Linked DNA regions of Homo sapiens: region 1 is linked to region 2. The links come from fine-mapping of genetic effects on plasma protein levels. A gene starts in region 2. The other region holds a variant in brackets. All regions are shown on one strand. Distances are between the middles of the regions. Region 1 overlaps RBKS (ribokinase). Region 2 holds the start of RBKS (ribokinase).

What was found. A credible set is the group of variants that fine-mapping cannot tell apart. PIP is the chance, under the fine-mapping model, that this variant and not a neighbour inherited with it causes the effect. Protein levels are from antibody-based Olink assays in UK Biobank. Linkage for the fine-mapping came from a reference panel and not from the study's own genotypes, which makes the PIPs less certain.
Region 1: its variant is the best candidate, but not a certain one, in a credible set for the plasma level of the RBKS protein (UK Biobank, PIP 0.67).

What each region holds. Positions count from the first base shown.
Region 1 is chr2:27,850,488-27,867,306 of GRCh38, reverse strand. It overlaps RBKS (ribokinase), which reads left to right. Exons shown (of 8, transcript NM_022128.3): 2 at 8,736-8,868. Among named protein-coding and RNA genes, the nearest start is that of RBKS, 31 kb to the left of the region's middle. The variant G/C (reference allele first, on the strand shown) is at 8,735.
Region 2 is chr2:27,878,638-27,893,972 of GRCh38, reverse strand. It overlaps RBKS (ribokinase), which reads left to right and starts at 3,586. Exons shown (of 8, transcript NM_022128.3): 1 at 3,586-3,716. The coding sequence starts at 3,628. It overlaps BABAM2 (BRISC and BRCA1 A complex member 2), which reads right to left and starts at 3,244. Exons shown (of 12, transcript NM_199191.3): 1 at 3,131-3,244. It overlaps BABAM2-AS1 (BABAM2 antisense RNA 1), which reads left to right and starts at 2,859. Exons shown (of 1, transcript NR_028308.1): 1 at 2,859-4,517. RefSeq lists a silencer at 3,119-3,398.

The DNA.
Region 1 (16,819 bases), 27 kb after region 2:
CTTTTAAGCTGTAGACCGTTCATTCAAAAATATTTACTTCTGCCCATGTTGGAGTAACTAGTGAGCATCCAGAGATCACTAGACATGCAAAGAATCAGGAAAATGTGATCTATAACCAAGAGTGGGGAGAAAACCACTCAGTCAAAATAAACACAGAAAAACAGGGATGGTGGAATTAGCAAAAAGGCATTTTTTTTTTTTTTGAGACAGGGTCTTACTCTGTCACTCAGGCTGGAGTGCAGTGGTGCAATCAGAGCTCACTGCAGCCTCAACCTCCTAGGCACAAGCAATCCTCCTGCCCCAGCCTCCCAAGTAGCTGCGACCACAGGTGCACGCCACCATACCCAGCTAATTTTTAAATTATTTGTAGAGACAAGGTCTCACTATGTTGCCCAGGCTGGTCTCAAACTCTTGAGCTCAAACAATCCTCCCACCTCAGCCTTTTAAAATGTTGGGATTACAGGCATGAGCAACCATGCCCAGCCAGAAAGGGATTTTAAAAGACCTGTTACAAATATGCTCAGTGATTTAAAGAAAAAGATGAACAGAAGAAAAATGGAAGATCTATAGATGAACCAAATTCCAGGTCTAAAAAATGAAAAATGCAATATCTGAAATAAAAAATCCACTGGATGAGCCTAATAGCAGAGTGAACATGACAGAAGAAAGGATAAGTGAACTTGAAAAACTAGTAAAAGAGATTATCTAAACTGAAGCACAGAGAAAAAAAATGCACAGTGTCTGTGACCTGTGGAACAGCCTACCATATATGTCACTGGAGTCTAAGAATAAAAGGAGAGAGAAGCAGAGAGGCACTAAAAGCGTTTGAAAAAATAATGGCTGAAATTTTTTAAACTTGATGCAAACTATGCAAACAATGAACATCCAGCAGGATGAGCATGATATAAACTACATCAGAGCACATTGTGATCAAATTCCTGCAAATCAGTTATAAACAGAGACTCTTAAAAGCATCCAGAGGTTAAGAAAAAAAAGGTACACATTACATATAGAGGAACAAAGATTGATTGCAGACTTCCTGTCAGAAACAAGATGCAAGTCAGAAGAAAATAAAATCTTTAAAGTGCTTGAAAACTAAACTGTCAACATGGAATTCTATATCTTTCCAATATAAAGGGGAAAGATAAAGACTTCCTAAAGACTTTTTAGGAAAATAAAAGAATTTATCACCAGAAAACTCACACTATAATAAATGTTAAAGGAAGTTCCTTTAGGTGGAACCAAAATGATTCCAGATGGAAACCCAGATCCACCCAAAGGAATGAAGACCCCCAGAAATGGTAAATATATGGGTAAATACAAAGACTTTTTCTTCACTTCTCAATTTCTTTAAAAGGCAATTGACATTTAAAATTAATAAAGTAATAACAGTATTGTGACGTTTACATCATGTGGAAGTAAAATGTATGACAATAGCACAAAGGTTAGGAAGGGGAAATGGAAGAATATGTAAAGTAGATTACATTTTTAAGTAAAGTGGTATGGTACTGTTTGAAAATAAAGTGTGATCAGTTTAAGATGCATATTGTAAACCCTAGATCAACCACTTTTAAAATACTAGGGGAAAAAATCAGCCAGGCATGGTGACTTATGCCTGTAATCCCAACACTTTGAGAGGCCAAGGTAGGAGGCTCACTTTAGGCCAGGAGTTCAAGACCAGCCCTGGGCAACTTACTGAGATTTGTCTCTACCAAAAAAAAAAAAAAAAAAAAAAGGAGGAGGAGAAGGGAAGGTAGAATATAACACACAAACAGGGAACGTAAAATGGAATACAGTTAATCCAAAAGAAAGCAGGAAAAGAAGGAAATGAGTATTGTAATGTCATGTAGTGATATTGCTATGAAGAAAATTGTTGGGAAGCAATGCTTCATGAATGTTTTCATGTTTCTGCATGATCAGGACTTTCTGAGCAAAGATTTCTGGCACCGGATTAAAGAATTTTGTTTGTTTGTTTGTTTGTTTGTTTGAGAAGGAGTCTCGCTCTGTCGCCCAGGCTGCAGTTCAGTGGCGCGATCTCGGCTCACTGCAACCTCCGCCTCCTGGGTTCACGCCATTCTCCTGCCTCAGCCTCCCGAGTAACTGGGACTACAGGTGCCTGCCACCACGCCTGGCTAATTTTTTGTATTTTTAGTAGAGATGAGGTTTCACCGTGTTAGCCAGGATGGTCTTGATCTCCTGACCTCGTGATCTGCCCACCTCAGCCTCCCAAAGTGCTGGGATTACAGGCGTGAGCCGTCGCGCCCGGCCTAAAGAATGTTTGAATGGCAAACAAGCCTTGGAAGTTAAAGACCTGTGGAGAGATTCAGAGACTTCTCCCCAAGATAATTTGTTTTCCTTCTGAAGGTTGTAAACCTAGAGACCCTCCCCTTCTCTCCCTGAGAGGATTTGTTTACAAAGCAAAGGTCAGTAGGTCATGTGCAGGTGATGCATGCTGCTTCTTCCCCCACCCCAGAGGGGAGAAGGAGCAGCAGCTGTGTGTGAAATGTCCTATATAGGCTCCAAAATTTACTATTAGGGAGTTATTCTTATCATGTAACCTTGTGGGGGACTGGAGAACTAAAGTATAAGTATTTAAATGCTGTCTCTGATTCAAAAACCTGGTTTTTTTTTTTCTCAGAATGAATGAGTCAATACTTAAAAATTATATTAAGAAGGGAGTGTCTCCTATAAGGTGGTCTGGGAAGTCCTCTCTAAAGAGGTAACATTTGAGCAGAGATGTGAATGAAGTCAGCCCTGTAAGACTGTAACATGGGAGAAGACCATATGTACTAATCTTTATTGTCTCTCTCATTGCCTGGTACACTTTTTCACACATAAGTAAGTTTTAAATAAATAGGGCTCAAGGATATGACATTGTGAAAGGCTGGTCACTTCTGGCTAGAGTGTTGTTTGTCCACTCTACAAATTCCAGAGTAGCTGCATCTTCAGACAAAATGACATTTTAGTCGCAGACATTTTAGCTAGGAAAAGATATGAGTTTCACGCCTGTAATATCAGTGCTTTGGGAGGCCAAGGTGGGAGGATTGCTTGAGGCCAGGAGTTCAAGAGTAGCCTGGGCAACATAGCGAGACCCCATTTCTACAAAAAAAAAATTAGTTGGGCATGGTTGTGTGCCCCCGTAGTCCTAGCTAATCAGAAGGCCAAGGCAGGAGGATTGCTTGAGCCCAGGAGTTCGAGGTTACAGTGAGCTGTGGTTGTACCACTGCACTCCAGCCTGGGCAACAGAGCAAGACCCTGTCTCTTAAAAAAAAAAGATATGGGTTAGTAATCAAAATCAGTTAAAAACTGCATAAAGCATAATTTATGTTTCATTACCTTAAATAAATAACATATACGTCTGCAAATGAAGGGTTAGGGAACATAGAATGAATTTTTAGTTGGGAGATTTTTTTACAGAGGTAGAAATAGATGTCACTCACTTGATTTTGAAATTACTCTCAGCCTTTTAAATGTGGCATATACAAATGCTGAGAAGAATAAATATGGTTGAAGAATACAGGCAGTAAGAATAATAAATTAGTGTAATGAATTTTAATTGGGTAATAATTAATAGTACAATCTCCTGTTATAGAGGCTTCTGTTGTCAGAAGCTTGCAGCCAAAAGGAGAAAAGATCAGTGCAAAAGCCAAAAAGCAACACATTTGGTGACTTTTGGCTGAAGCCAATATTAGCATGACCTCTTTGGTTGAAAGACTTTTCATCCCCCTATTACCGGGTCATTCCTTCCTTTGGTTCGAATAATCTCTGAGAATCTGTAAAAACCACATCATTGTCAAGAAGTTAAAAGCAATTGATAAGTTGTTCTGGTAACACCTGTCAGTGAATTAACTCAGAGCACAAAACCCAGGCATTTAAGGAGTTGACAAGTATTATTAAACCTGTTTTGCAAGAGAAGAAGCTGGTTCAAAGAGGGAAAAGCTGTCAAAAGTAATACAATCAGTAAGTGGCTCAGGCCTCCTGCCTGGCACACCCAGGCTCTAACCACGTGGCCTCTCATGGCAGGGAAGACTGGGGCCATGTATGAACATTTATCACTGTTCCTTTCAGTCCAACCTGAAGACATTGTGGCATTTTAAAAGCTATGAATTTGTTTTAAATTCAAATATATTTCTTAGGCATGGTTTTCTCTGTTCAGGTTTTCTCCCTCATTCAGAAATTTACACTATTTTTACCTTTAAATGGTAGTAACAATGTATTTCTACTAATACTGTTTCCTTTTCTTTTTAATTTGAGCAATTTAATTTTTCTGTCTTTGACACTCTGTTAAACCTCTTTTTTTTTTTAATTAGAACAAATCATAGTAATGCTTTCATCCCAGGAGACGGTGCTTTGTGCAGATGCTTTCTTGAACCTGAACATAATTTCATGATTTCAATAAGGAAGAAAGATAGGAAAGTCTCATTCAAATTAAATTAGGATTTATAATTCAGAAATGCTTCTGCCTGTTTGTAACTAACTTCCTAGTTGCTCTCTCCACTCTTCAGTTTATTTACTTTATAAAAAATTAAATCCGCCATAAACTGTCTTAGTCTGGGTTTAACAGAAACCAGAGCCTAAGACAGAGGCTTAAGTGCACATAGTCAGTTAGCACTATAACCCCCGAGTCAAGAGCAGGGGACAGGGAAGAAGGAAGAGCGTATACAAAGGTATTTGACATTTGCAAGTTGACCACTGGCTGCTCAGTCCTTCAGGACAGTCTGAAGAGACAGAAGCCCAGGGGTGGAATGAGAGCAGCATTCAGTAAGGCTCTGTTAGGTGACACCTGCGAGAAGCCAGCTGGTGCCCACCAAGAACTGGTGGCTAGTAAATGAGGCAGAGGCCACGTGAATCTGATGTAGTGACAAGTGGTATCGTATAATACACTAAAATATTCTTGTCGTATGTATTTATGTGCATAAGAATATAAAATAACACACAAACTTTTAGTCCCCACCTTTCTTTGTGAATACCTGTCATTTAACTTTTCACTTTTTATGCATGTACATATCATGGGAGAACATATACCTATATCTTTTTCCTTTTAAATAACATAAATCAGCCAGGCACGGTGGCTCACGCATGCAATCCCTACACTTTGGGAGGCCGAGGCAGGAGGATCGCCTGAGTCCAAAAGTTTGAGACCAGCCTGAGCAACATGGCAAAACCCCGTCTCTATAAAAAAATACAAAAAATTAACCAGGAGTGGTGGTGTGCACCTGTGGTCCCAGCTCTCTGGGAGGCTAAGGTGGGAGGATCATCTGAGCCCAGGAAGTTGAGGCTCCAGTGAGCCATTTTTGTGTTCCACTCCAGCCTCAGCAACTGAGCAGACTCTGTCTCAAAAAAAAAAAAAAAAAAAAAATCAGGCCAGGCGCCATGGATCACACCTGTAATCCCAGCTCTTTGGGAGGCTGAAGCAGGGGGATCAGGAGTTCAAGACCAGCTTGGACAATAAAATGAAACCCTATCTCTACTAAAAATACAAAAAAAATTAGCTGGGCATGGTGGTGCATGCCTGTAATTTCAGCTACTCGGGAGGCTGAGGCAGGGGAATCATTTGAACCCAGGAGGCAGAGGTAACAGTGAGCCGAGATAACACCACTGCATTCCAGCCTGGGAGACAAAGTGAGACTCCACCCCCCCCCCAAAAAGAAATGGAACATACTAATCTCCTTATTCCGTGAATTATTTTCTTCACTCGTGTATTACTTGCATCAGGGTTAGGTTTAATGCCATTGTCAACAAGTTGATTTTGCCTTGTAGGAGATACATCAGGACACAGTGATGAACATTTGTTGAATTAGTGCATGAATGAAGGAATATATGACTTCTAGTTACAGTTCTTGCTTGTGGAAGAGGAATGCTGCTGATACTGGGAGTGCAGTGGGCAAGATCTGGTAAAATATGGAGTTGTTATTGTCGGACAGTTGCCCAGTCATCCCTGCCAGTCTCCCCCTGCTTCCCTAATCAACACCTCCACATCCTCATTTCAGAACAGGAATAGATGCTATACGGGGGAGACACAGAAAAGAGACAAAGGGAGGCTGGGCGCGGTGGCTCATGCCTGTAACCCCAGCACTTTGGGAGGCTAAGGCAGGCGGATCACTTAAGGCCAAAAGTTCGAGACCAGCCTGGCCAACATGATGAAACCCCCTCTCTACCAAAAATACAAAAATTAGCCTTGCCTGGTGGCGCACCCCTGTAATCCCAGCTACTTGGGAGGCTGAGGCAGGAGAATCACTTGAATCAAGGAGGTGGAGGTTGCAGTGAGCCGAGATCGTGCCACTGTACTCCAGCCTTGGTGACAGAGAGAGACTCTGTTTAAAAAAAAAAAGAGAGAAAGAGAGACAGAGACAGAGACAAAGGGAGACTCTTACAAAAATCTGTTCAATCAGCAAATATCTGTTAACCTCGTGTCAAGTGACAGACACATTGCATAAAATGGAGAACATGACAGACTTGGTCCCTGTCCTCATGCAGGGAAAGTCTACAGTTAAGGGAAGAAAGAGACAAGAGTAGGGGAAGGATGCAGAAGAAAAAGAGGAGAAATTAGTAAAATACCAAAAGAGTGAAGAATTTCAGTGATCACTGAATTAATACAATGCTTGTGTTAATAGAAGTTGTTTAGAAATGAGTTTAAATCCCAGCCATCTGCTCCCACATCAAACACACCTACTGTACCCATGATTTTGCCCTTCCCCCACATATATATATACATCCCAGTAATAATCTGGTGATTTTTAAATGAATTCTCACAGTTAGTAATAAAAATTACACTTGATTCAAACCAGTGAATTGTAACCCAGATCTAAGTATAGATGTAGTGGAAATCATAAGTTTCTTTAGTGACAGTCTTACTAATCAAGTTATTTGGCCTGTTTTTAGCCACATGGTATATTTTTTCTTTTTCAGGTTGCTCTGAGTGTTGTTTGTAGCAGCATCAGTAAGCCAAGAATTCACATAGTTACTCAATCACACAGATTACTCATCATTGCCTGTTCATAACAGAATCCTAAGATGTTTAAGATTTCTAATGCAAATCAAAATCTCATCATCACTTGTCATTGCTAAATTAAATGACAGGATAATAACATTACATTAAAACCATTTTTCTCTTGATTGAGTACCTTTTTCAGAAGTGAACCTTCTAGATGTATATTTTTTTTCATCAGTACTATAAATGCATTTAGAATCCAAGATAAAAATAGAATTTAAAGGGGAGGAGTGGGATGTTTTCAAATTATTGATGAGGCTCTTTTGAATCTCAACCATATTTGACAGTGTACTGCAAGGGAATGGAGTAGTTCAGCTCAATTTATTGACACTTTTAGAGCTATATAAAGGAGGTTAACAGGTTGAGCTTGGTCTTTATTGAAGCAATCGTGTGTTCTTAGCATCAGTTATATGTCATCCCGTTGCAAACTGGCTGTTAGGACTTGTCATTGCTCTGTTCTAATATAAGATACTGACTTCAGATAGATCACAACCTATGTGGAAAATTAATATAAATTTCTAACCTGTAAAAGCAGTGTAGGTTCTCAGTGGCCTTACCATTGTGAACTTACCTCTTTACCTTTCTTTCCTATCTAAAGCTAGTTAACCTTTTTTGGTCACACCTACCCTCTTTTTATCTGCTCCCTCTGGCCCTTGGCCCACTTCTCTGTGGCCAGCTAGCCAGTGTTCGTGCCACCTGAGCCCATCTTCTTCACTTGCCCTAGAACTCCCCAGAATGCCTCTTTCATTTTAAAGTCAATCATTTCCTTCCATCCTTCAAATATTTTATTTCCTCACACCTTCCATCTTTAATAATATGAAATATAAAAATCTTACCCTGGATCAAACCTTTTATTCTTTTTGCCTCACTTAATACTATCATCATTAGGCAATAATAGCATTATGGTAAAAATTCTTACCTCTTAGAGAAGCTGATGAAGGTATTGACTCAAACAAGATTGGCTATGAAACAATAAGTATTAAATTATTAAATCTGGATGATAGGTGAATGAGGGAAAGGGAAGCCAGTATGCTGTTTTCTCTACTTTTATAGGTTTGTAATCTTCCATAATAAAAATTTAAAAATAACTTAGCTCTTTAGTGTTCCTTTTTTAAAATAGACACCCTTTTTGAGTGAGCACGTGAAATGATGTGGTATGCAGGATGGACTAAGACTAAAACCTGATCCTGCTCTCTGAACACCCCACTCTTACTCTACCCCTTAGTAAACAAAAAAGATTCTTTAGCACCTGGAATTGTAACTTCCCTCTTCTCCTTAGGTCCTGTACTTGATTATCAGAATCCTGGTCTGGTTTAACACTTCCTGCTTCTTGGTTTAACACTTCCTGCTTCTTGTTAAAGTGACCAGATAAACCCATATAGAAATATACATTAATTTCATCCCATTTATTAAATCCCACTGTGAATAAAGTTCTGTGCTGGCATTAAGAAAGAGAATATGAAGGAAAAGTATTCATGAATAACCCTGATGCAGTACAACACTAGCCACAGTAGTGGTCTCTAGGAGAGAGAGAGGAATTCTGTCAAGGAGACTCATTCTTGATAATGATGCAAACTACTAAATGTCATCCTAAAGGAAGAGATAATCTTCGTTGCTTCTGCTTATAGTTCTAATTGTTAAGACTATTTAGAGCTCTACCATATAGCCTTCCCTCTCTTCTAAAGAACTTAAATTGATTACAGTTACCAATATGCTTTTTTCTTCTCTTTTTAAATTACAATA[G/C]TCTTACTTCTCGTTTGCCAAAAACTGGAGAAACCATCCATGGACATAAGTTTTTTATTGGCTTTGGAGGGAAAGGTGCCAACCAGTGTGTCCAAGCTGCTCGGCTTGGAGCAATGACGTCCATGGTGTGTAAGGTAAGTACAAAGTATAGTGGAGAGGACTCTAGAGGTAAGAATCTGGTTTTAAGACTGGAGTTCATTGTTTTTAATTTTTTCAACCATTTTAGAGTGAACAGTTCAGTGGCATGTAATACATAGAGTGGCATTTAATACATTCAACCACCACTTCTGTCTTGTTCCAGAACTTTACCATCATTCCAAAACAAAATCCCTTACCCCTTAAGCAGTTCCTCCTCATTCTGTCTTCCCTTTAAAGCCCTGGGAACCACCAGTCTTCATTCTATCTCTATGGATTTATCTATTCGGGACATTTCATATAAATGGAATATATATTATGTGACATTTTGTACCTGGCTTCTTTCACTTAGCATACTGTTTTTGAGGTACAACATTGTAGCATATATCAGTATTTCCTTCCTTTTTGTGGTTGAATAATATTCCATTGTATGGATATACCACAATTTTTTTATTCATCAATGAATGGATTGATGGACACTTGGGCTGTTTCCACCTTTTGGCTGTTATGAATAGCAGTGCTACTAACATGCATATACATCTACTTGAGTACCTGCTTTCAATTCTTGTGGAAGTTTATTGTTTTTAAAGATCTAAATAACAGAGAATAGTCTCCCTTGTCCTTTATACTAATTTCTACCTCATTGAATCCTCTGGGAAGTAGCAGTTCTCAAATAACTTAATGCTGCATTCCCTGAATGTAATGAGTTTGTAACTGGGGTGTGAGAAGTGAGGGAAATTAGCGTACTCCAATGGGTTTCTGTCATCCAGCTTCTAAACAACAGCATGAGTCACCTTGTTTTTAGCAGGTTTCACCGCAGCAACACAGCTTTTGGAAACTTCTTGTAATAACCGGTGATTTACTCATCTCTAAGTCATTTTCTTCTAATGCTGTATCTTAGATCTGAAAAGAATCTGGGCCTTAATGAGCTACATATAACTGAGCTTTTGGCATAGTTTTGTTTTCATGTATGTAGAGATATGATATTGTAACATACAGTATTCCTATTTTTATCCATGCTACCGAAATAATTTGAAAATAAATGGGCTGCCAAAAGTTTTCACTTTTCATTTTTCATGAAATTTTAAGGCGCTAGCATTATAGCATTAGTATAACAGGAAAGGTAGATGATTGTGTTTCTTTGATTTTTAGGGAAAGCCAGCCTGTGTCTGCACATTATTAAAGGGCAAGAAAAATACAAGGAACTTAAAAGAATGAGCTTTCTCCTGTGAACTATGTAGATTTTACCAAAAATTCTCGAAATGTCATTTTTCATTGCAGTCAGCACTTTTCTCTCCACAGGAGTTTTAAATGATGTATAAACTATACAATTATCACTCCATCTGCTAGTAAACTGTAATTTTATTTCTAACCTATGATTAACATAATTTTCACATGGCTATTTGGTCAAAAACATCACGTGAAGCATCAGATTCAAAGCAAGAAACCCTCTTTTGCTAAGATTGAGCTCTTGATAGATTTAAAATATCAGTGTAATTAATCAGCAATTAATTATGTTCCAGGAATTATGGGTCTGTGAGAGGTGGCTGATTAAAAACTTAGGCCTGACCCATCTCATACCTGATTAGCTATGGAGCGTTTGGAGAGTAATCAGATGGTGCTGACTTAATTAAGAGGACCTGGGAACTGGAAAGAGGATGATATAATTTCCTGTGTAGGAAAACTTGGACATAGAATTGGCGTTGGAAGCTATGCACCCAAAATGGCTTCGCTGGGAAGAGGGGAGTTCCTAGAGCTGGAGACATTAAAGGAGAGATTAGAGAACCCCTCTCTTGGATGTTTTATGGAAGCTATTTATGTAGCCATTAAAGTCAAGATTGGATGTCCCCTGGGATCTCTTCCAACCCTAAGATTATGAAATTGATTTTATTTTAGGTCTGTTGAATTTGAGGCAAAGAAAGAAATGACAAAGAGAAATATTTGAGTTATGGAACTGAACGTGGGAAATGAATCCTAAAACCATATGAGTGGATAGGAGAGGAATAGAAGCAGGGGGCTGTATTTTGGGAAATGTTCCAGTTAGGAGGTTGATTAAAGCAAAGGTACCATTTGTGTGTGATGGTTTATGTTAGCATCTGTACAATTTTGAAAGTTCTATACATCTACCATGCCCCTGATTTAGTCACCTAATGCTTAGCACCACAGTGGATTTTAGCCTGTGTGTCTGCCTAGCAGAGGATCAAAAAACATGACTGCAGCTAAAACCTATCCAGGGTAACTTTGGTTAGATAACTTGGAACCTTTAGACATGGAATTATTTAAAAGCTTAAGCAAATTGCATAATATTCTCAGACTTCTTAAAAAGAAAATCATATATTTTTGTAAAAGAAGTTATTATCTGTCCATTAATCATATTTTATCCATTGTGAGATACATTTTTATTAAGCAAATTAGCCAAACTTGCTTTATAGCAGTTTTTTAAAGATGACAAGTTCTAAGTAGAAACCAAAACCATGAAATTTATCAAGATAAAAATGAACAGAAGGAGCAAAAGAAAAACAGGTAAAAATTTTCTATGGCTTTCTCAGCAAGATTTATTTACCTCTTGCTACCTATAACAAACTAAAATTCAAACTCTTATGAAGTAAGATTGATGGCCCAAACAAACTTATATTGAGCTAGGGAGAAATATTTGTTAAGATATTGTGACAAAGAATATTAAATGAGTTACCTCATTATTTATACAGTGATACATGTATAATGAAACACTTCAAGTACTTAAGAGTTAGTCAGTATTTAGCTGAGTCATGGACCAAAGCTACAGTCTAGTGATAACTGGAGATGGTATTTTCAGATTTAAAATCCTGGCAGATATTGTATAAAATGAAAGTCTTCCTCCCAGGGCAAAGAGCCTATTAGGACATCTTTCTTAAATCTTCACCTGAGTTAAGTGTTTCCTGCTCCATTCCATTGAAGCCAAATGTTAAGAAGAGGAAGTTATTCCTAAACATCAAAAGTTGGCAGTTCAGGAGAGGACCATGGTCAAGTAAGGAACTCAAGATGCACTGGCCCAGTATGAGCACAGAAACCATGAGCAGGTATGAACCCAAATGACCCAGGTCAGGAATCAGCAAACTGGAAACACCTTCAAGAAATTACCCTGTCTTGCTTCCTTCAAATGTGAGACTATCAAACTATCCTTCAAATATGAGACTATCCTTCATATATGAGACTATCAAACTCTCTAATACAGGTAGCTATCTGTTTTCCCTTCAGAACCATCAAGCATGAAGTTTTGTGACAGAGGTGATACTGATGCAGGCTGCCCTGAGGGGCTTAGCCAAGGAGGGTTCTTGGCTTTGCCCAGGCAAGAATTTAAGAGTGAGCCAAGGATAAGAAAAAGCAACTTTGTGTGGTGGGGGGGCGGGGGGTAGTAAGAACACTTAACTTGAGATCTACCTTCTTAAGAGCATTTTAAGCATACAATAAAGTATTATGAACTATAGGCACGATGTGGTACAGCAGATCTCTGGATCTTATTTTATCTTGCCAAATGGGCAGGAGGAAACTTGGAGGTGATGGATGTTTATTACACTGATTGTGGTAATGGTTCCACAGATGTATGCATGTATTCAAACCCATCAAAATGTATACATTAAATATATGCAGGGTTTTTATTATAATTATATCTCAGTAAAGCTGTTAAATATTAAAAAAAAAAAAAAAGAAAAAGCAACTTTGATTGAACCAGTGCTGCAGGGCTAACTGATAGGCTATGTGCCCAGAGGGTAGTGTATGGGCTGTTAGCAACTATATTTACATGTACTTTAAATTATATGCTAATTAAGAGGCAGGTTATTCAGAACTTTTTGGAAAAAGGGTGGGGAATTTCCAGAACTATAAAAGGTAACTTCTGGGCCATTGCCATGGCATTTGTAAACTATCTTGGGTCCAGTAGGAGTGTCTTGTGCTAATGAGCAGTGAGAGCAACTAGAGGTCACTTTCCTCTTTTCAGCCAGCGTCTTCATTGCACCATGTTTTGACCAGATCCTGCTTCCACCAGCAGGGTCCAACTGGAAAATAAGACCTGCTGGCCTCCTAACTCGGTACATTAAGGTGGTGCTGTTCAAAGTCCAGTCCTCAGGCTGGTGCCAGGCTGCATGCAGATTGTCACCGGTCCAAACAGCACAGGAATTGAGAGTAAGCAGTTAGGATCATTTATAGCAATTTGACAGAATAACTTTACAACCGTTGAATATAATAGTAATAATAAATTAGGCCTTGTAGTTTGTATGACTCTTTTTTGTTTTCATCTCCTTGTTATTGTATTTTATAAAATTGTTAGTCCACAATGGATTGAAAACAAGAAAAGGAAAACAAGGCCAGTGCTTCTCCACGGATAGCTTGAAAAGCAGTGCATTAGAGTATCCATCACCTTAACCAAAAAGTACCTTCTGTGCTAGATTACTGTGGGAGAATCATCTGATCATGCATTGAGATTTTCATTTTCAGAGATCAAAAATTAGTCACCAGGTCTTTCCAGGTAATATATAATGAGGTGAAATCTGTCCTTTCCTGAACTCTGTTGAAAGACAGCTAGATATAATTAGTTGGCTATGTTGATTGGAATGCTTAGCCATATGTTCAAACAAATGATCCTATAACCAAGCAAATAATATAAACCTTGTATAGGAAGAAATGGTAGAAATGAGAGAAAATAACTGGATTATCTCAAACCTATCACCACTCTCAGATAATCAGGCCTAATAATGGTGATTGCAGCATTAACTTTGTATATTAAAGGTCTTTATTTTTTTCTGAGACAGGATCTCACTCTGTTGCCCAGGCTAGAGTGCAGTGGTGCAATCTGGGCTCACTGCAGCCTCAACCTCCCCGGGCTCAGGTGATCTTCCTGCCTCAGCCTCCCAAGTAGCTGTGACTACAGGCATATTCCACCATACCCAGCTAATTTTTGTATTTTTTGTAGACAAGGTTTTGCCATGTTGCCCAGGCTGGTCTCAAACTCCTGAGCTCAAGCAATCTGCCTGCCTTGGCCTCCCAAAGTGCTGGGATTACAGGTGTGCACCACCAGCCCAAAGGCCTTTTTTTTTTTTTTTTTTTTTCAGAGACAGGTTGCCTGGGCTGTAGTACTACGGTGCTACAGCTCACTGCAGCCTCAAACTCCTGGGCTCAAGCAATCCTCCCACCTCAGCCTCCAGAGTAGCTGAGACTACAGGCATGCAGCACCACACCCAGCTAATTTTTTAATTTTTTGTAGAGATGGGGTCTTGCTGTGTTGCTGAGGCTGGTCTCGAACTCCTGTCCTCGAGCAGTCTTACCACCTCAGCCTCCCAAAATGCTAGGATTACGGCATAAGCCACCATGCCTAGCCTAAAGGCCATTATTAAGGTAAACACCCCTTTATCTAGGATTTAAACAACCAGCAAGCTTTAATAACTGAGATTTTATATATTCTTCTTATGTATTTTGTTATAAGGCCACAAATGACAAGTTAAAAGTTAATATGAAGGATTTATTCAAAAAAGCAACAGCTGGGTTTTGTATGACAACAAATGCAACTTAGTCTCCTCAACCAGCTGTTCACTATAACCCTCAGGCACTGAAAAGTGACAAAATGTCTTCAGTTGCAAGGATTAAATTATATTCATCTTAGTTTTAGTGTTAAACATATTTTCTGTATTCTAATGCTTTGAAATCGGTAACCTGTTTTAATATATGTGATAACTTCTTGAGCAGAATATTCAATTTCATGTGGCCTTGGGTAGGATGTTTTGATATCCTGTGTTTTATTTACCCCAAATGTATGTTGAGGAGTAGAATTACTAGATGGTTTCTGCCATTTGAGGATTCCAAGCAGCCTAAACAACCATTCCTCAGTCATTTTGCAAAATAGAAGTTATGATGCTGACTGAAGTTGCCCTCCTTAGCTTCAGGTCATAGTTCTGGACTCTGGAAGCCCTCCCAAAGCTCTTCTTCAATGCAGAAAGATCCCTCCCAGTGATAAGAGTGAAGGAAGCACCTCAGTCCCCTTAGCTGAAGAAATGCTCTTGTTCCTCATACACCCAGCCCTTTTGCTTTCCATGACCCTTGCTGCATTGTCAAATACAGAAGCCACTAGCCACATGTGGATATTTAGATTTAAATGTAATCAAAGTTAAAAAATTGAATTCCTGTCACACAGTCTGTATTTCGAGTGTCTGTATTGGGCAGAACAAATAGAAAACATTTTCTGTATTGGACAGCACAGATATAGAACATTTCATCATTGCAGAAAGTTCTATTGGATGGCACTACTCTACAATATTCAGGGCGGAACTGAGCCTGGGATTTCCAAAGAGCATGTTGAGTTCTGAGAGTTCCCTTTTGGCTTATGTGCAGGTGCTTGTCCATAGTTGCTCTTGACCTGGCTTCCTTCACGTGGAACAAGTTAACACAGACAGGTTATCTCAGACTATGCGGGTTTCCAAGAATCTTTCTACCCAAAAGTATTTCACTGCTGTAGTCAAAAGAGTGTGAGGGTGCCTTCAAGGAGGCTGTTGGAAACAAAACCTTGTATGGAACCATTCTAGAATAGTTTGGGTGCTTGTAGTCATGTTCCTTCAAGAATGGAACATGACAGCCGGGTGTGGTGGCTCACGCCTGTAATCCCAGCACTTTGGGAGGCTGAGATGGGCAGATCACCTGAGGTCAGGAGTTCGAGACCACCCTGGCTAACATGGTGAAACCCCATTTCTACTAAAAGTACAAAAATTAGCCAGGTGTGATGGTGCACACCTGTAATCCCAGCTACTCGGGAGGCTGAGGCAGGAGAATCACCTGAACCCAAGAGGCAGAGGTTGCAGTGAGCGGAGATCGCACCATTGCACTCCAGCTTGGGCAACAAGAGCGAAACTCCGTCTCAAAAATAAAAAAATAAAAAATTTAAAAAAAAAAGAATGGAACATGACTACAAGATGGGTCCAAGGAAAATGAACAGAAGGACAACTAATGTGATCAAATCCTAAAGAATCTCCAGTAAGCTTTTAAGAAGACTAGACTAACAAATATGAAATCGCCAACAATATAAGATGGTATTGAACTATGGGCTTGATTAGGAATGTCATAGGAGGTGTGGAGATGAGAGGATTAACAAGGGCCAGAGTAGGGAAGGTAGACCTTAAGCTGATACTTGAAAAACAGGTGAGGTTTGATTTAGTGGAGGAGAGAGGGCAAAGGACTTCTAAGTTCTCAGAAATGATGGTAAGGAAACAGACAGGTTTCTTTCTATTGATATATCCAGAAAGGAACAATTTTCTGTGGAAGAATAGAACACACCAGGAGTGACTGAAACCTGGATTGAGACATAGTCCATTGAAGTAATGCTCACCTGCAGGACAGAAAAATAGAAGTTCAGTTCAGAAGTATAGTTCAGAGGTAGCAAGACTAAAGGCCTACAGGAGCCAAGCAGGTAACAGAAATTGCAGTAGGCTAGGTGAAGCCAAGAGTCTATGAGCACTTTAAGGCACTCACCTCTCAGTTCCAGGTGGTTTGCCTTGCAGGAATGTGGACCCAGTGTTACCAGAACCTCTGAATTTTCAGAACCCCCTGGACATCTGTCTGTTTTTGTGAAGTCTTCTAATATTTAAGTATTGAGAACTGATAAAAATAGCAGGGCATTTACACCAAAACCTGCACACAGATATTTATAGCAGCTTTATTCATAATTTCCCAAACTTGGAAGACATCCTTTAGTAGATAAATGGATAAATAAACTCTGGTACATCGAGACAATGGAATATCATTCAGCCCTAAAAAGAAATTAGCTATCAAGGCATAAAAAGACACAGAGGAACTTTAGTTGCATATTACTAAGTAAAAGAAGTCAATCTGAAAAGGCTGCATACTGTGTAATTACAACTGTATGATATTCTGGAAAAGGCAAAACTATGGAGACAAAAGATTAGTGGTTGCCAGAGGCTAGTGGGGAGA
Region 2 (15,335 bases):
TGCCAGGCTGGAGTGCAGTGGCGCAATCTCGGCTCACTGCAAACTCCACCTCCCGGGTTCAAGTGATTCTCCTGCCTCAGCCTTCCGAGTAGCTGGGACTACAGGCACATGCCACCACGCCCAGCTAATTTTTGTATTTTTAGTAGAGACGGGGTTTCATCAGGTTGGCCAGGATGGTCTCAATCTCTTGACGTCATGATCCACCCACCATGGCCTCCCAAAGTGCTGGGATTACAGGCGTGAGCCACCGCACCCGGCCTACTGCTGATACACCTTTCTTAATACCTTTCCGTCCACAGTGTAGTATAACTACCTGCTTACGTGATCTCTTCCCTGCAGGGTCTATGTTTTGAATCCCCAGGGTTTAACAGAAATACCTGGCACATGCTAAACACTCAATAAACATTTTTTAATAAATAAATGAGTAAGGGGACAAAAGTTAGAGAAATATTTCAGTATGGAGAGAAGATAATGTGCCCCCTCCCCAGAATTTGGTAGGGGAATAGATATAACAAGATCCAAGGAAGAGATATAACAAAAATCTACTTGACAATTAAATTATGAAAACATACATCTATGCAGCTATCAAGCAACACAGACTAACATGGATCTTAAGGTATTTGACTTTAAGGCACTAAGTCCTTACACTTAAAACCACAAAAGTAGAACCAATACATCATATCTAAATTATCTGGAAACTCATAGGGCTGGGGGAGGGAGTACACGAATTCTTCTTAATAGATTTCTAAATGAAAGCCTCTTCCTTCAGAGGAAAAAGTCGATTCAAATGATCGTTTCCTTCCTCAATTTTAAAGAATAATGCCACATCAAAAGAAAATTAATTTCCAGCAAGTTACCAGTAAATGATGCTCTGGTTCTAGTTTTCATACATTATACCACATGAAAACTTACAAGTCCTTGCTAAAATAAATGTTGAAAATTAAAACCTGTTTCAGTTTATTATTTCAGATAGTAAGTAATAAATTTATTTGCTAATTTGATAGCTCAAAAAATAAGAACACTTTGACCCTATATAGTGATGACAACCAGAAGTATCTTCGAGATTAACACCTTTATATTCATACTTCAGTTCTAAAATCATCCTTTTTGTAAATATAAAACAAGCTCTTCTTCTGACCGCTTAACAGATGACCGCCCCCCGACTAGTCTCTCATTTCAAAGTAAGACTAAACATCTAACACTGTACTACCAATCATAAAAATCATGTACTTTTTTAAACATTTTATCACTTACAAGGAGCGTCCATATATATTACTGCAGTTGATCTTCACAAGCCTGAGGTAGTAAGGAATTTTAATTCCCAGTTTGCAGATAATATGGGTAATTATTATAATTTGATTCTGAACAGTATACTAATCCACATCATAATTTTGAAGCCTATTTTTTTCTATTCGCCAACATTTCCACCTTCATGTCTATGTCACAATTCTTGAAGGGATGCTTATCAAAGTCATATGCTAAGTACAAATATACCTATCTTATAAAAAAGCAAAAGGGTCTCACCTATATTACCGAATTGTTCTTCTGTGTTTTTCCCCACAGTACCCATTATTACTTTATCTCTTGCTTCTACAAAAGAAGGAAACAGAACCAACACATTCTAGACACCTATCTACCCATTATCAGGCATTATATTACTCATCTCTATCTGTAATTTCATTTACATTTCCCCAACTCTGTTCCCTGAGAACAATAATTGTTCCCATTTGACAAGTGGAAGCTAAAGAAACTTGACAAATAGAAAATTAAAGCTCAGCAAAATAAAATAACTTGTTGAATGTTGGAAGCTGGAGGATCAGAATCCAAATCCGGATTCTCCAAGTCCACTATACCCATCTTTCTCTCAAATAAACATTGATAACTTCTATCACCAAAGAGAAAAGCATCAAGGTGATTTTGTAAAGCGTATATCTTATAAAATGTGAACAGACAAAAAGTAAAAATTTAAACAAATGATTGCTTTACCACTAAAAACAAACTGGACTATTGCTGACCTACTGCTGAACCTGGTCTGAGTGATTCACTAGTCAAATGTTAAAGGGAACAGCCTTGCTCTAGAAGCCAAACCATACTAAGTGACAACAATACATTCTAATTCAGCAACGGTCGTGACTTTAGGATGACACCTGAGGGAATGAATTCTATTTCCAGGGCAGCCATAATACTATGTTTTAACAGTGCAAGGTTTCACGCAGTATTAAAATCTATTTCAACCATGAGGAGGTGTGACTTCTCTAAAAAAAAAGGGCGGGGGGTGGGGAGTGGAACACAATGACTCCAAAATCAGAAGTCACTTAGCCAAAAACACTGGTCCTTTGGTGCAGTGAACCGGGTACATGGACAGGGAGTCACCACCGGTAGTAACTCTTACGCATGGCAGCACTATAATACACCCCAGATATACAAATATTTACGGTGGTCAGAGTCCCCTGAATACTACTACTGCAATTTGTATTTCCTGATTTTGACGTATTGCAAAAGGAAAATGCAAAATTACAATTTTTGCAAGGGTCTGCTACCCCAAAATAAAGTTACAAAAGGTCCTTTGATGAGAGGCCTGGGGATTACAAAGACGTCTAAAGCACCATCCAGGTTCTTGCAATTAAAATGAGATGACAAACACGGAAACATGTGCCCTGCTGACGTCATGGAACGGAAAGGGGTGGCATCCTGCTGCGTCACGTCGACGTCATACAGCGCACGAGGGAAGTTACACTGGGGAAGCAATTTCCCCCAAGGGGCAACATTCGAGAAAAACAAGTTAGCTCAGACCCGAAGAATGACCACCCCACTCTAGGGGACGTCTTAAAAAGGGACACTCTCCCCTCTTCCAAACTGTATGATTCCCCTCATCAGGCAACAAGGAACTAATACTCGGGGTTTACAGGAACCAGGGGATGGGCCAGATATGGAGAAAGAGACGCCTCTGGCCTTGGGGGCTCGTTCTTGAGGGAATCAGCGTGATGGGGATGAGAAGGGCATCTTTGGAACGGGGGCCTTCTCCATAGGAAGAGGAGGCGAGTCCCCTGGCCATATTTAAACCACAGTTCTCCACGCCACCTGTGCGACTCGGGATCCAACCTCCCCGCACCAGCCCCAGTCCAGGTACCTGGAACTTAGTCCGATCGGTAACCGGCGACTACGTGGGGTACAGGTACCCGAGCGCGCCCCCGACAGACGCACCGACCTGCGCGCGCGCCGCGGGCAGGATGCGTGCGCACTCCCCGGACGTCCCGCCCCGCCCCCTCTGCGGCCCCGAAGCTGGGCGGCGTGCGCGCCCCCGCGCCGCGCCGAGCCGGGCGCTCGGAAAGGCGTCCCCGCGGTGCCTGACAGTTCCTTCCTCAGCGCCTGCCCCGTGAGTGACGAGGAGCGCGGAGTCTCGCCATATCAGGAGGGCCCTGTTACGTGAGGCTGTGCACCGAGACTATTCCAGGAAGAAGAGGGGACACTTGGTGGGCGGGGTGATTTCGGGCAGTCAGGTGGGCGACCCGCGTAGGCGTCTGAAAGGCCCGCGTCGTTAGGGAGGGCAGGAGTGGCGTCTCTGGTTACGGGGTCGGGCAAAGGGCAGAGGTCACCGTCCAGGTTGGACAGCAGCACCTTTGAGCGATGGCGGCGTCTGGGGAACCCCAGAGGCAGTGGCAAGAGGAGGTGGCGGCGGTGGTAGTGGTGGGCTCCTGCATGACCGACCTGGTCAGGTTAGTCCGGGGCCAGTTACTCAGTCTGCGGCTCGGGGGAGGAGGCGTGCCGTGCGCTATGCGCCCAGTGGAGCTTTTGGGCGCTGGGTCTCCAGGGATAGACAGTGCTAGCTTTGGGTATGAGCTGCAGGTTTTCGAAGCCTTCAGCCTACCTTCCTGGCATGAAAGAACTTGAGTATATAAAGGTAAATCTCAGGGGAGGGGACGTAATAGGCCAGGGTTTAGTGAAAGCTCTAATATTACTCAAAGCGCTCCCCAAAGACCTGCCCTCCAAAGACTTGCGCCCCCAAAGACCTTTCTTGGCCCGGCTGCTGAGCCTTTCCCCAAACGAGCCAGGGAACTTTGCCCACGTCATTTTACCTCCGAGAATGTGCCTACCTCACAGGGTTGTTGTGAGGACTAAATGAAGTAAAGTGTTTTGTCAAGCGTAACATTATCCAAATTGGGTATTATTCGTCTGAGCTTATTGTATAAAATAATGAGTTGAGCAGAAATCAAAAAGACTGTCACCTTTCACCATGTTGATTGTCGGCATTACTGCAGTATTTTATATTTACAGCGTATTTTTCAGCAAGCCAAGTATGAATCAAAATAAAAACATAAACACAGTATTTACAACCTCTGAAAACGATGATCAAATTATGATAGAAAATATGCCAAATGAAAATTGTTGAGTTAGGTCAGTAAGATTGAGTAGACAGATCCTTCTGATTTTTCTTTTTTTTAAATTAAGGTAGCTTTTCTGATTACAAAAGTAATGTATGTTCACTGTAAAATTAGTAATAAATTCAGATATTCCAAGAAAATCCTACCACTCCAATTACTGCAGTTCAGTCTTTTGATGAATATCTTTTCAGTTGTAATGCTACTTTGTGTTATAAAAATGATCAGGTATGCTACAGTAACACCTCATTCGTCCTGAAATGTTGCTTTTCCAAAGGGTAATAGAGAACGTGGAACTAAACAAAAAGGCTTTGGGACAATCAAAATAAGTCACCAAATTGCTGCACCAAACCACCTGTATTCTACTCAGAAAATAGGTCTAGGGTCTTCATGTAACCAATTTAACCTTACCTTAAAATATTTATAAGCTGTGTTACCAAATTTCCACTGAGATTAGAAAGGTGGGAGTTAGAGAAGAGACTGCTAGAGGCAGTTATAGTGACTGACGAAAACTTGAGGATGAGTAGGAGACTGTGTAACGAGAAGAAGCAACAAAAGAATTTTAAATACCAATGACCTTTATTTTTCCACAAATATTAGAACTATTCTGTCAGACACTGTGCCAAGATAAAAATACTTTCCTTTGGTGACAGAGCATAAAATTGAATCTAGTTGGAGACATTTGTTGAAGAGGCCTGTACATCTTTTTCTAGAGCAAGAGTAAGTAAACTTTTCTGTAAAGGGCCAGATAGTAAATATTTTAGGCTTTGCAAGCCGTATGTGGTCAAGGTCACATTTTTTTTTAACAACATTTTTTAAATGTAAAAACCATTCTTACCTCCCAAGCCTTACAAGAACATCCTGCAGGCCATAGTTTGCAGACATCTGTGTAGAAAGAACATTACTGTGTTTACAACACAATATAGCAATTGATTTTACTGGTGATGACTCTTTTCAAGAAAAGGTTATATGGTACTTACTAAATTTTGTATAAAAATAGAGCATGTATTTCACTTTAGAAAAAGTTTCATCAAAAATTCATAAAGTTGAGTTACATAAAGGAATAAACCTTCATCTAAAATGATTCATTCCATGGGAAATCCACCAAGCTAAATGTTTACCATGATTTTATGTGTGAAGTGGCAGAAGAGTAAGAAAACTAAAGTGGACCGGGCGCAGTGGCTCATACCTGTAATCCCAGCACTTTGGGAGGCCAAGGTGGGCAGATCACCTGAGTGAGGAGTTTCAGACCAGCCCAGCGAACATGGTGAAACCCCATCTCTACTAAAAATACAAAAATTAGCTGGGCATGGTAGCTGGCGCCTGTGATTCCAGCTACTCAGGAGGCTGAGGCAGGAGAATTGCTTGAACCTGGGAGGTGGAGGTAGCAGTGAGCTGAGATCGCGCCATTGCACTCCAGCTTGGGTGACAAGAGCAAAACTCCATCTCAAAAAAAAAAAGAAAAGAAAAGAAAATTTTCTCATACATCCTACCTGAATAAAAGTGTCAGGGTTAAAATTCAGAGCTACTTCCTTGTTACCAAACTGAGAGCTTTCTGTGAAGCTTGACCATCAGATACTAAAAATAACTATAGTACTTTGTGGGGTGGGGTAGGGGAGTGGTGTCAAAGGCCCATTTTAGCATCCGTCAGGGTTTTAAAGTCTTATTTCAGAGCTAGAAAAATTTGGAAATTATTTATTCTAGTCCTTCAGTTTTTAGATAAATAAACTGAAGCCCAGAGAAGAATTTCTCCTCTTGGCCATATTCTTTCCTTCATAAAATATCCAAGTTTCTTCTCTTCACATGAATCAGTAAAAATTTTACTGATGATTAGCAAAATCACTAGTAAAAATTTTACTGATGATTAGCAAAATCACTAGTAAAAATTTTACTGATGATTAGCAAAATCATTAGTAAAATCATCAGTAAAAAATCATTAGTAAAAACTGTATTCCCATATAGACTCTCTCTGCTAATTCCCACAGCTTTTCAACAAACTTTTCATGATCTCTCGTTACTTATGACACTGAAGATCTTTACAAAAATCTGCGTATAGGATTTTCATTTAAAACCCTGCATCTGTGATAAACTTGGGTGCAACTTTTCTAGTTACAGTTAGTATCATGATTATATTAGTTATCTACTGCTGCTGTAACAAATTACCAAATTTAATAATTAACGCAAGTTTATTTTTTTACTGTTCTGGAGGTCAGAAGTCTGATACAGGTCTCACTGGGCTAAAATCAAGGTGTCAGCAGGGCTGGGCTCCATTCTGGAGACTCTAGAGGAGGATCTGTTTTCTTTCCTTTTCCACCTTCCAGAGGCTGCCCACATCCTTGGCTCATCGTGGCCCCTTCCTCCATCTTCAGAGCCAGCAATGGTTGTTCAGGTCTTTCTCACATTACATCACTCTGATCCCCAGTCTTCTGGCTCCCTCTTCTACATTATAAGAACTCTTGTGATTACATTAGGCACAACCAGATAATTCAGAATAATCTCTTTATTTTATGGTGACTTATTAGGAACCTTAATTTCCCCTTGCCACGTAACAACATATTCACAAATTCTGGGGATTTGGATGTGGACATACTTTGGGAGAGGGGAGCAGAGAGTATGTTATTTTTGCTACCACAGTGGTTAAGCTTGAAGTAAAAAATCCTACAATATTTAGTTCTCAGAGACTCTTTGAAGCCTATCATTCTATCCTCACATTTTACAAGTGAGATAAGGAAGAGAGCTTCAATGACTTACTCCAAATCACACAGCCAGTAAGTGGTTACTTACTGGCTAGTAAGTGGCTAGTAAAGGCTACTACCCAGGTCTCCCAATCCTTAACCTTTCTTTTTTATTTTTTTAAATATATATTTTCTATTTTTTATTTTGTTAAAGATGGGCTCTCGCTATATTGCCCAGGCTGGTCTTGAACCCCTGGGCTCAAGCGATCCTCCTACTTGGTGTCCCAAAGTGCTGGGGTTACAGGCGTGAGCCACCGTGCCTGGCCCCAATTCGTACCTTTCCATTATATCATTCTACCTCTAACTCTGACTAGTGTTTATTGCCCTTTTCATCTACAGTACATTTGATAGCTTGTAGTCTGTACATTCATTGTTAACTTTATAAACTGATAAGGAATAACAACTAAGGATTTATAATTTTCAAGTCTAAAGATAGTATCTTTATTACTGTGCCTTATTCCTAAATTTAACTGTAACTAGCCTGGACACGCATGCCTATTCTTTAGTATCACTTCAGAAATAAAACTGCTTCAATAACTAAGCCCTTTTAGATGGCATCCAAGCCCAACTTACTTTATATATTACATTACTGTGTGCCAGACACTGCTAATTCAATCAATGAATAACCTTTTTTTTCATTTCTAATTTCAGTCAGCTATGAATAGTAAGTCGTATGTAGTAATAATTTTTAAAAATCATTAGCTCATACAGCATGGCAAACAATTGAAATTATTTAATACTCACTTATATTTTTCTCATCATCCTCTTCCTTCTTGAACACTCATCTCTAAAGTTACACATTACAAAGATACAAGGAATCAACCCTGGTCTTATGGGATATAAAGTCAAAGATTTTCCAAAGACAGATTTCCACAACAAAACAACAATGTGTGAATATTTTTAGACGTTAGGCTCATAGGCCTTTGTTAATCATGTTTTCATTAGTAAACCTTATTTTTTATGACCTGTATCACCCATTTTTTTAATTATTCATTCAAGAAATATTTATTGAATTTATACTATGTGCCAGGCACTTCCTGATGTGCAGAGGATACAGCAGTGAAAACACAGACAAAAATCCCTGCCTCATGAAGTTTACATTCTAGTAAGACAGTATCAGTAGAAATAAGTTAATTACATAGTAAGTTAGGTAAAAGCTAAGGAGAAAAATTAAACATGTAAGGAGGGATGGGAATAGGAAGTTTAGATTACTGGCTTCAGAAAGCCTCACTGAAAAGGTTATTTAGAGTAAAGACCTAAAGGAGGAAAGAAAACAAGTCATAATCTGAGGGAAGAGCATTCCAGGCAGAAGGAATAGTGTACTCAAAGGCCGTATTCAGTGAAGAACATGGAGTCCAGTATGGATGAAGAAGAAAAAAAGAGTCAGGAGACAGCAATCAGTGATTAAAGGACATTGAGTCATACTTTGGATGAGATGAAAAGCTAGTGGAGGATTTGAGCAGGGGAGTGACATAATCTTATTTTGATTATAATAGGATCTCTCCAAGGGCTATATGAGAATAAATAGCATGAAGGGGAAGGCAAATACAGAAGCAGGGACACAAATTCAGAGTCAATCCCAACAATCTAGGCAAGAAATGATGGTAGCTTGAAAGCAGTGAAGTGGAGAGAAAGCATCTTTCTATTATATTTTTGGGGTAGAGTTGACAGGATTAGTGGAAGTTGACCTCTATGAAAACGCAGAAGATTGTATGCAGAGAAAGTTGGGTGGGAGAGGGCTGTATCAGGAGCACAGAGTGGAATTGGGAGGGTTGAGGTACCTACTAGATATCAAATTGAGGAGGTGAAGAAAATAGATACAAGAGTTTGGATCTCAAAGGAGAGGTCCAACCCGGAGATATAAATTTCAGAGTCATCAGTGTATCAATGGTATTTAAAGCCATGAGGCTGGATGAGATCACTGAGGGTCTGACCTCCTAGGGCACTACAACATTTAAAGGATAAATTTTTAATAAAATTGACTTCCTGTCTCTCTTCAAGTCTCTCTGCAGTCCTAAAACTTGCTTTGAGACGTGCTTAATACAAACCTATGTTTATATTTCCATAGCAATAGACTCTGATGTCAACTAAAACTCTGTGTTATCTTTTTACATGCTGCCAATTAAAAGTGATGGCTTGAGAGATAAGACTCGTGTTCACCCAAGCATCTAAGCTTAATCCTGCCAAATCAGGAAATGAGTGCCTAATTTTCAAAAGGTTTAATTGGATAGTGGAATAAGTGAATTTAGAAGCTTTTAGATCCAAAGCGGATGAAGCATTGGACCTAGATTACTTAAAAAAAAAAAGTTATGGCCAGGCATAGTGGTGGCTCAAGCCTATAATCCCAGCACTTTGGGAAGCCAAGCGGGTGGATCGCTTGAGCTCAGGAGTTAAGACTAGCCTGGGCAACATGGCAAAACCCGGTCTCCGCAAAAAATACACAAATTAGCTGGGCGTAGTGGTGTGAGCCTGTAGTCCCAGCTACTGGGGGGCTGAGGTGGGAGGATCGCTGGAGACCCAGAGGTTGAGGCTACAGTGAGCCTCGATTGTACACTGTACTTCAGCCTGGACAACAGAGTGAGACCCTGTTAAACATAAAAAAATAAAAGAGAGTTATACTGTACCTATCAAAGTTTGTATTTGTTTGACATAATAGAGTACTTTGTAACTGGGACACAGGTTACAGAGTCAAGAAGCCTCTTGGCTTGTCATATTTAGAACAGAGAAATCTCTTTTACAGTCACATTTTCAAAAACTAAAAAAGGAATATTGATCCAAAAAGTATCATGCTTTCCCAGTATTCGAGGAATATAATATCCTTCATTATTCTTTCTGCTTCTTAAATTGGTCTGAAAAGTTGCTTATCAGTTACCAATCATTTATTAAATTAGTATTTTGTTAAACATAGTTGTGTCAACTGTATTCCCTAATATCAAAAGTAATCATTCATGGGAAATTTGGTATGTCCCTTTAATGAAAATATACATTAAAAAATTATGGCTGGGTGCAGTGGCTCATGCCTGTAATCCCAGCACTTTGGGAGGCCGATGTGGGAGGATTGTTTGAACCCAGGAGTTTAAGACCAGCCTAGGTAACAGGGTGATGAGACTCTGTCTCTTAAAAAAAAAAAAAATTGCATATGACAAAGAAAGAGCACCTACTGTGTACTATTACAAAGCAGTCCCTTTAGCAATCCATTCCTTTGCCAGCTCTCTGTGCCTTAGGCTTTTCATGTCTGTAACCTAAGGAGAACAAAGTAAGGTGGACTTTGTGATGAGTTTTGCTCTAGTATTTTGATGACTTGTTTATAATGCTGAAATACTTATAGTGTGCTAAACACTAAGAATACTGCAGTTAGGAGGCTGGGCGTGGTGTCTCACGCCTGTAATCCCAGCACTTTGGGAGGCCGAGGCGGGCAGATCACGAGGTCAGGAGATCGAGACCATCCTGGCTAATACGGTGAAACCCCATCTCTACTAAAAATGCAAACAACTAGCTGGGCGTGGTGGCAGACGCCTGTAGTCCCAGCTACTCGGGAGGCTGAGGCAGGAGAATGGTGTGAACCAGGGAGGCGGAGCTTGCAGTGAGCTGAGATCGTGCCACTGCACTCCAGCCTGGGTGACAGAGCGAGACTCCGTCTCAAAAAAAAAAAAAAAAAGAATACTGCAGTTAGGAAAACATGGTTACTGCTTGTCTTGTCTTAGTCCCTTTTGTGCTGCCATAACAGAATACCTAAGACTGGGTGATTTATCTTTTTTCACTTTTATTTTAAGTTCAGAGGTACATGTGCAGGTTTGTTATATAGGTAAACTCATGTCACACGGGTTTGTTGTACCCAGGCATTATTATTTTTTTTTTGTCACCCAGGTATTAAGCCTAGTTCTCATTAGTTATTTTTCCTGATCCTCTTCCCTCCTTTCACCCTCCACCCTCAGGTAGACCCCAGTGTGTGTTGTTCACTTCTGTGTGTCCAGGTGTTCTCATCATTTAGCTCCCACTTATAAGTAAGAACATGCAGTATTTAGCTTTCTGTACCTGTGTTAGTGTGCTAAGGATAATGGCCTCCAGCTCCATCATGTTCTGGCAAAGTACATGATGTCGTTCTTTTTAACAACTGTGTAGTATTCCATAGTGTATATGTACCACATTTTCTTTATCCAGTCTACCATTGATGGGCATTTAGGTTGATTCCATGTCTTTGCTATTGTGAATAGTGCTGTAATGAACATACACATGCATGTGTCTTTGTTACAGAATGATTTATATTCCTGTGAGTATATACCCAGTAATGGGATTGCTGGGTCAAATGGTAATTCTGTTTTTAGCTTCTGAAGGAATTGCAACCCTGATTTCCACAATGGTTGAACTAATTTACACTCCCACCAACAGTGTATAAGCATTCCTTTTTCTCCGCAGCCTTGCCAGCATCTGTTAATTTTTGACTGTTTAGTAATAGTCATTCTGACTGGTATGAGATGGTATCTCATTGTGGTTTTGATTTGTATTTCGCTAATGATCAGTGATGTTGAGCTTTTTTTGATATGCTTATTGCAAATAAAATAAAATGTATGTCTTCTTTAGAAAAGTGTTTGTTCATGTTCTTTGCCCACTTTTTAATGGGGTTGTTTTTTTTTCTTGTAGATTTGTTTAAGTTCCTTTTAGGTGCTGAATATTAGACCTTTGTCAGATGCATAGTTTGCAAAAATTTTCTCCCATTCTGTAGGTTGTCTGTTTACTCAATAGTTTCTTTTACTGTACAGAAGCTTTTAGTTTTCTTTAGTTTAATTAGATCTCATTTGTCAATTTTTGCTTTTGTTGCAATTGCTTTTGGCATTTTGCCATGAAATTTTTGCCTGTGCTATGTCCAGAGTGGTATTGCCTAGGTTGTCTTCCAGGGTTTTTATAGTTTTAGGTTTTACATTTGTCTTTAATTCATCTTCAGTCGATTTTTGTATATGGTGTAAGAAAGGGGTCCAGTTTCAGTCTTCTGCACGTGCCTAGCCAGTTATTCCAGCACTATCTGTTGAATAGGGAGTCCTTTCTCCATTGCTTGTTTTTATCTGTTTTGTCAAAGATCAGATGGTTGTAGGTATGTGGCCTTATTTTGGGGGCTCTTTATTCTGTTCCATTGGTTTATATGTCTGTTTTTGTACCAGTACCATGCTGTTTTGGTTACTGTAGCCCTGAAGTATAGTTTGAAGTCAGGTAGTGTGATGCCTCCAGCTTTCTTTTTCCTTAGGATTGCCTTGGCTATTCAGGCTCTTTTTTGGTTCCATATGAATTTTTATTTTATTTTATTTTATTTATTTATTTATTTTGAGACAGAGTCTCACTCTGTCACCCAGGCTGGAGTGTAGTGGCACAATCTTGGCTCACTGCAGCCTCTGCCTCCCAGATTCAAGCAATTCTCCTGCCTCAGCCTCCCGAGTAACTGGGACTACAGGCCCACACCACTACGGCTGGCTAATTTTTGTATTTTTAGTAGAGACGGGGTTTCGCCATGTTGACCAGGCTGGTCTCAATCTCCTGACCTCGGGTGATTTGCCAGTCTCAACCTCCCAAAGTGCTGGGATTACAGAGGTGAGCCACTGTGCCTGGCCTTATTTTTCTTGAGACAGGATCTTGCTCTTTCCCCCAGGCTGGAGTGCAGCAGTGTGAAAGTGGCTTACTGCAGCCTCAACTTCCAGGCTCCAGCAATCCCCCGACATTAACCTCCCAAATAGCTGGAACCGCAGGCACACACCAGCATGCCCAGCTAATTTCTGTTTTTTTGTTTGTTTGTTTGTTTGTTTGTTGGTTGGTTGGTTTGCAGAGATGGGGTTTTGCCATGTTGCTCAGGCTAGTCTCGAACTCCTGGGCTGAAGCAACCCACCCACCTCAGCCTCCCAAAGTGCTGGGATTACAGGTGTGAGCCATCGTGTGCAGCCCCATTTGAATTTTAAAATACTTTTTTCTAGTTCTGTGATGAATGTCATGGTAGCTTAATAAGAATAGCATTGAATCTGTAAATTGCTTTGGGCAATATGGCCATTTTAATGATATTGATTCTTCCTGTCCATGAGCATGGAATGTTTTTTCTATTTGTTTGTGTCATCTCTGATTTCTTCAATCAATATTTTGTAGTTTTCATTGTAGAGATTTTTCATCTCCCTGGATAGCTGTATTTCTAGGTATTTTATTTTGTGTATGTGGTAATTGTGGATGGGATTATGTTCTTAATTAGGCTTTGGCTTGACTCTTGGTGTATAGGAATGCTGGTGATTTTTTGTATCTTGATTTTGTATCCTGAGACTTTGCTGAAGTTGTTTATCAGCTTAAGGAGCTTTTGGGCCAAGATTATGGGGTTTCCTAGGTATAGAATCATGCAAATAGGGATAGTTTGACTTCCTCTCTTCCTACTTGGATGCCTTTTATTTCTTTCTCTTGCCTGGTTACTCTGGCAAGGACTTCCAATACTATATTGAATAGGAGTGGTGAGAGGAGGCATCCTCGTCTTGTGCTGGTTTTCAAAGGAAATGCTTCCAGCTTTTTCCCATTCAGTATGATGTTGGCTGTGGGTTTGTCATAGATGGTTCTTATTATTTTGAGATATGGTCCTTCAATACCTAGTTTATTGAGAGTTTTTAACATGAAGCAGTGTTCATTTTATGGAAAGCCTTTTCTACAACTATTGAGATAATCGTGTGGCTTTTGCCTTTAGTTCTGTTTATGTGATGAATCACAGTTACTGATTTGCATATGTCAAACCAACCTTGCATCCCAGGGAAAAGTCTACTTGATCATGGTGGATTCGCTTTTTGATGTGCTGCTGGATTCAATTTTCTTTTTTTCTTTTGCCAGGTTTTGGTATCAAGATGATGCTGGCCTCATAGAATGAGTTAGGGAGGAGTCCCTCCTCCTCAGTTTTTTGGAATAGTTTCAGTAGGAATGGTACTAGCTCTTCTTTGTACATCTGATAGAATTTGGCTGTGAATTCATCTGCTCCTGGCCTATTTTTTAGTTGGTAGGCTATTTATTACTGATTCAGTTTCGGAGCTCATTGTTGGTCTGTTCAAGGATTCAGTTTCTTCCTGGTTCTGTCTTGGGAGGGTGTATGTGTCCAGGAATTTATCCATTTCTTCTGACTTTTCTAGTTTGTGTGCATAGAGGTGTTTATAATATTCTCTGATGGTTATTTGTATTTCTGTGGGGTCAGTGGTAATATCCCCTTTAAGACTGGATAATTTGCAACGAACAGAAATGTGTTGGCTCGTGGTTCTCTCCACAATGGAGAGTCCAAGATCAAGGGCATCTGGTGAGATTGCTATATCATTCCATGGTAGAAGAATAAAGCAGGTTGAGGGGAAGAGAGAGAGGTAAAAGGGGGCTAAACTTGTCCTTTTATTAGGAACTCACTCCCTTGATAACAAACCCACTCCCATGATAATGGCATTAATCCATTCATGAGAACAGAGCTCTCATGACCTAAACTCCACTTAAAAGTCTCACCTCCCAGTGCCATTTCACTGGCAATTAAATTTCAACAGGAGTTTAGGAGGGAACAAACATTTGAACCATAGCACTGCTCTTGGGGAATTTACAGTCCAGAGAAGAAGGCAGACTCAAAAAGAGATTATTATAGTATGACATGGTAAGTGCCTGCAGGTTATGCGAGAGAACAGGGAAAACTTCCTAGAAGAGATGCCCCCGAGCCAAATTTTCAAAAATAAGCAGGTGGTAACCCAGAAAAAAAGGGGAAGGAAGACATTCCACCACTTGGGGTTACACACAGAAGCAAAATCATGGATGTGCTTGTGTGGTATGTGCTGAGGCACATATGGCTTGCATGGTATCTGCTGAGGCAGCAACCCTTGGGTCTTAGAACATCAGGATATACAGTGGTGATGAAAGGCCTAATCAGCCATGCTGAGGTGCTTAGGTTTTATTCTTTAGGCCCTGGAAACCAGTGAAGGGCTCAAAGTACAAGAATGACAGCCAGAACAACCCCATCAAAAAGTGGGCAAAGGATATGAACAGACACTTCTCAAAAGAAGACATTTATGCAGCCAAAAGACACATGAAAAAATGCTCATCATCACTGGCCATCAGAGAAATGCAAATCAAAACCATAATGAGATACCATCTCACACCAGTTAGAATGGCAATCATTAAAAAGTCAGGAAACAACAGGTGCTGGAGAGGATGTGGAGAAATAGAAACACTTTTACACTGTTGGTGGGAC